Regions from separate parts of the Homo sapiens genome. Here region 1 is linked to region 2. The links come from fine-mapping of genetic effects on gene expression. A gene starts in region 2. The other region holds a variant in brackets. All regions are shown on one strand. Distances are from middle to middle.

The links.
Region 1: its variant is fine-mapped to the expression of BNIP1 in aorta (GTEx, PIP 0.98).

What each region holds. Positions count from the first base shown.
Region 1 is chr5:172,437,039-172,439,943 of GRCh38, reverse strand. All of the region lies in intron 1 of SH3PXD2B (SH3 and PX domains 2B), which reads left to right. Among named protein-coding and RNA genes, the nearest start is that of SH3PXD2B, 16 kb to the left of the region's middle. The variant G/C (reference allele first, on the strand shown) is at 1,440.
Region 2 is chr5:173,143,024-173,145,928 of GRCh38, reverse strand. BNIP1 (BCL2 interacting protein 1) reads right to left here and starts at 1,398. Exons shown (of 6, transcript NM_001205.3): 1 at 1,300-1,398. The coding sequence starts at 1,383. RefSeq lists enhancers at 666-735, 677-1,205.

The DNA.
Region 1 (2,905 bases), 710 kb after region 2:
CCAGATGTGTGTGAGTAGCAGTGCGTGAGCTGGCAGCCAGAGGCCTGGGCTGGAGCTGCACGCCTGGAGCAGCGAGTGTTTCCACCAGCCCAGTGTCTCAGTCGTCGGCAAGAGTGGAGATGCCTGGCCTGGCCAACCCTGGAAATAGTTCCTGCTGCCCATGCCGCTGGATAAGATTCCATGAGTTAGGGGAGCCCAGAGGGTGGGCAGCTGTGTGTGTGTGTGTGTGTGTGTGTGTGTGTGTGTGTGTGCGCGCGCGTGCGCGCACGCACGCACACACATACCTGGTTTTTACAGCTTGACATTCCCGACTTTTCCTCTTAACATATCTCACTTTGCAAGATTTGAGTTGGCCCAAGGAAGATGGCTACTCGGTTGGGGCCTCCAGTGTCTAATCTCCATAATGGGTTATTAGTGATGGCCCTGGAAGCTGTCTGTGACCAGATGGTGTGCCAAGCACCTGACATGCATTAGCGCCTTTAGCCCTCAGCCAACCCTATAAAGTAGGTACTGTTCTCTCCATTTTCCAGGTGTGAAGAAATGGAAACTCAGAGCTGTGAGGTGATTTGCAAAGTCACAGCAGCATCAGGCTATAGAGGCAGGATTCATAGTCAGGTATTCTAAAGCCGATGCCTGTGGTTTTTTTTTGGGGTTTTTTTTTTGTTTTGTTTTTGTTTTTGTTTTTTTTTTTTCTTTTTTTTTTTTCTGTTTTTTCTGTTTCTGTGGCCCAGGCTGGAGTGCAGTGGCGTGATCTTGCCTCACTGCAGCCTCCACCTCCAGGGTTCAAGTGATTCTCCCACCTTAGCCTCCTGAGTAGCTGGGACTACAGGTGCGCACCACCACAGGCCGGCTAATTTTTGTATTTTTAGTAGAGACGGGGTTTCACCACATTGGTCAGGCTGGTCTCGAACTCCCGACCTCAGGTGATCTGCCCGCCTTGGCCTCCCAAAGTGCTGGGATTACAGGCATGAACCACCACACCCTGCCATCTTTTTTTTTTTTTTAATGACATTAAAGCATGATTGTTATTTTTAATTTTTTACTTTACGTGGATGCTGTAAAATTCCCTTTTGTGGTGTAACGCAGTAAAATTTTGTTTTTTGGTGTAGCATGTTATGATGTGCAGGTTCCTGTAACCTCCACTACAGAACAGTTCCAACACCTCAAAGAATTCCCTCAGCTTTACTGTCTCTGACATACAGTGGGATGAGGCATTCCCCCTGGAGTTTAAATCACTCCTGGGTATTCTGTTTTTTGCCATTACCTCTTCAGAGAAACTCTGGGGTGGAACGTGGACTTCCCTTTTTGGGTTGGGTCCCATGCCTGCATTCCCTCTGTGACAAAGCCAGCTCTGTTTCTGGTACCCTTGGCAATAGAGCTGTTCATTCAGCTATTTCACGAGCATTGTTACTCTCTGGACACAGAGAGCCTTGAGTGAG[G/C]TCACCTTGGTTTTTGACTGTGTGGCCCTGTTTCGGCTTTTTGTCTCTTTTACCGGGCATTTCCTGAGAGCTCATTGTCGCCAGGCACTGGGGGGACCATGGTGAATAGACAAACCCGGCCCTGCCCCAAGGGCCCCCAGGGCAGTGGGGGTGCAGTAATGCAAAGAGACCAGCACCCCTAGAGGAACAGGTTCTGAGAGAGGGTGGCCCTAGCCCTGTGGGAACTCAGAGAGTGGGAGCTAGACTGAGACTTGGGGTGTCCAGGAAGGCTTCCAAGGAGAGGTGACTTCTAGGCTGATGCTGGAGAAATGAAGAGGAGCTGAGCAGGGCAGGGAGAGGAAATGTTCCCGCCAGAGGCAGTGGCAGGCATTGAGTCCTGGAGGCAAGAGAAAGCCAGCCAGGCTGGAGCAGAGGAGGGGCAGACTGCACAGGCCCCTAAGCCCCACGTTGTGCCTGTGTGGTGTGTTTTCTTTCTCGATTGAGGCCCTTCGAGCAGAGCTTGGTGCACAGTAGGTCTCTGTGTATATGCCAAATGAATGAATGAATGAGCTGAAGAGTTTGAGGCAGGGGGAGAGAGATCAGATTCCCACTTTGGAGGCTACTCCTCTCCCCCTACTCCTGCCGCCATTTCCCCATTTGGCACACCTCTGCACACAGGGATAAGCGGAGCCCTCAGCTCAACCAGCCACCTGAGCCTTCGCTGCGTGCCCTGTGGACAGAGTGCAGTAGGAACACAGCCCTAAGTGTCTCATCTGACGCAAGACACCACAAGCACTTGTATTTTGGCCCTAATCCAAGCATTCACTTAATTGAAAAAATTGGGGGAAAAAAATATTGGCAGCCTGCCACCTCCAGTGTGTCACTTGCTGCAGAGCCTGAGCTTGGTGATTCCTGGCGCTGACGTGGGGACCGGAAAGCTCTGGCCTGGGGCCAGGAGACCCAAGGCCTTGGGATGCTGGGAGAAGAAAGTGAAGAGGCTTTGGAGGCTGGCAGGGCTGGGATTGGATCTCATGTCACCCACTTCCCAGCCTCTCGACCTCAGGCGCAGCATGGCTCTGTGCCTCGGTTTCCTCCTCTCCCCCTTCAGCACTTCTGGTGGTGATGCTGCCCTGGGGTGTTGGGAAATCAAACAAACTTTGGGTGCTGCAGTTCCAAAAAGAGGTTGGAGGTGCTGACCTATATAGGCCAGATGTTGGACACAAAGCTGGGGACAGTCAACAGATCAGAACCAAAGGGAACCCAGGGTCTCCACGAAGCGTGGCAGAGTCGGGTTTCCCATTAGTCAAGCCCGTGGAGCTCCATCCGACCGCCCTGCCCTCTCCTCGCTCTCCATCTCTCCCTTGCCCTTGTTGCTTTCCCTTCCCCAGCACCCACGAGGACCATACTTATCCACCTTGGGCCTGTGTGACCAAGACAGCATATTCCCAGAGCAAGCCATCTGCAACCCAGCCAGTCACTAACTCCCA
Region 2 (2,905 bases):
TAAATATCTGCATCAAATTTCACTTTTTCTCTGGCTTATTCATTTAATCACACTTCTTTGCACCGTATTTGTTTATTCTGCATCTAATTTGGTTTATTCTGCATCTGGTTTATCTGGGGAGCCCTATTTTCCTGCACTTTTTGCCACACCTTGTTACAAACTCTGAGTCTACATCTAATGTTTAGTGACTTTGTTGAAAATGATTATTTTTAAAAACCAAGGTTTAGGCCGGGCGCGGTGGCTCACGCCTGTAATCCCAGCAATTTGGGAGGCCGAGGCGGGCGGATCACGAGGTCAGGAGATCGAGACCATCCTGGCTAACACGGTGAAACCCCGTCTCTACTAAGCAAAACACAAAAATTAGCCGGGCGTGGTGGCGGGTGCCTGTAGTCCCAGCTACTCAGGAGGCTGAGGCAGGAGAATGGCGGGAACCCGGGAGGCGGAGCTTGCCGCGAGTCGAGATCGCGCCACTGCACTCCAGCCTGGGCGACAGAGCGAGACTCCGTCTCAAAAAAACAAAAACAAACAAGCAAAAACAAGGTTTAAAACTCGGTTTCTTTTTGCTGAACTCATGGAACCGTGTCTACACTCCCAATTCTTGCCTAAGTCCACTCGTTTATTTTACCTCTACCCTTAAATGGCTTAAGGCGAAACACTTCATTTCCTATCTGTTCAAACGGGGTAACACTCTAAGGTGTTATTCCTAGGTTGACTTTCACAGTCCAGGTCCCAGTTTTGCCACTGACCCAGGTATGCCTTCTAACCTAGGCCTTGGCGCCGTACTCGATTTCCTCAAGCATAAAATCACAACTACGGTCCAGGTTACATTCGTTTCACCCGGTGCCTCCCGTGCCAGGTGGCCTTGGATGCCAGGAGAGCTGGCCAGCAGGGGGCGGGGCTAGCTGCCTCCCGGACGCTACCAGAGGATGCTGAAGCAGCGTCAGAGGGCGGGGCCAAGCAGGGTGACAGGTAGGTTGTGAGGTAGTCAGGGGCGGGGCGACGACCAGGGCTGCAGGTGGAAGGGGCAAAGCCGAGCCCCGAAGCAGTAGCTGAGTCAGGGGCGGAGAACAGTGGGGTGCTCTGGGGATGGGAGATCCGGCGGCACCCGGAAAAAGGATCAAGGCCAGCAGTCACCGGGACACAACCAAATGGGGACCGGGGGGGTAGCCGACCATGGGGCGGAGCCTGTGGTCTGGGAAACCAAGTGGGGAAAGTTCGGGAGTGACACTGCCAAGCTCACAGACCAGCAGAGCTTGGGTTAGGGCTGCTGGAGCCCGGCAGGGGTCCCGGGATCAGTACCTGAATAAGCGCCTTCACCTCCAGGTCAAATTTGACAATCTCTTGGTTACAGATCCGGACGTGGACGTCTTGGGGAGCCGCCATGTTGGGGACGCCGGCTACGGGCAGCGGCAGGACCCAAGTTCAAACGCGTTTTCGCACCACCTTCTTTCCCTCCCCACCCAGTCTCGGGGCAGCGCCCCCTAGAGACCGGCGAAAATGGCAAGCGAGGGTCACTGCGCAGAGTTGGGACTTTCCCTGACACGTGTAGGGAAATCAGCCTCTCCTCTTGGTATGGCCCTAATAACATGGAGAGGAAGGGAAGAGGGAATATCAAGAACGCTTCACAGTGGTCTCTTTCCATCTTCCTTCTGTCAGGCATTCTAATAACTATATATTTTTTACATAGAAAAAAAAAGACTGGAAGAAAAGTATCAATTGAGATGTCTCTGGAAAGTACCAGTAATAATTTTTTGTTTCTTCAAACTTTCTTATATTTTTAATATTTTCTACAGTGAGTATAAATTGTGGAGTAAAAGAGGAAATGATAAACGTCATATATTTTTTAAAGTATGGAGTTCAAGGCAGGTCGGTAGAGTACCTCCTATCACTCCAACACATGATCTAAGGGATCTTTGTAAAACACGAAATTGATCAAGTCACCTACCTGTATGCAGCCCTTCTATGGCTTCTCGTGTTTCCCTTTTGTATACAACTGGATTTATTAAATCTACCTTGCTAAGGTAGTTTTGATGGAAATGTCAGAGCAAACCCTCAACAAATGGTGGCTCTTTTATTTTTGTTAGTAAATAATCCAAGTTTCTTAGCTGGTCCTCAAGGCCATCAGCCACCCCGGCCATCAGCCACCGCACCCTGCGCCCTTCCTGGATTGCTCAAGCTCCTTCTGGATGTGTAGCCTTAGAATGTGGTGTTCCCTCTCCCTAGAAAGCGTTTCCCCCACTCGACCCCACTCCATCTGCATTTGTTCGGGTCACTTCAGCAAGCATAGATTGTGAGGACCTAAAGGCTTAGGACTTGAATGTTCATCTCTCTCTCTTTTTTTTTTTTTTTTTTTGTGGCGGAGTCTCGCTCTGTTGCCCAGGCTGGAGTGCAATGGCACAATCTTGGCTCACTGCAAACTCTACCTCCCAGGTTCAAGCAATTCTCCTGCCTCAGCCTCCTGAGTAGCTGGGATTACAGGTGCGTGCCACCATGCCCAGCTAATTTTTGTATTTTTCATAGACACGGGGTTCACCATATTGGTCAGGTTGGTCTCGAACTGACCTCGTGATCCACCCGCCTCGGCCTCCCAAAGTGCTGGGATTACAGGCGTGAGCCACTGTGCCCGACCATGTTCATCTCTCTTAATCCTCACAACCACCCTTGAAATTGTACTACACTATTATCACAGATCAGGAGTAGGGCTTAGAGTAAATTAAAACAAAAAACAATCAACCCTGTTGCAAGATTACCTATCTTGAAAGTGGCAAAGCCTAGGCCGGGCACGGTGGCTCATGCCTGTAATCCCAGCACTTTGGGAGGCCGAGGCGGGTGGATCACGAGGTCAAGAGATCGAGATCATCCTGGCTAACACGGTGAAACCCCGTCTCTACTAAAAATATAAAAA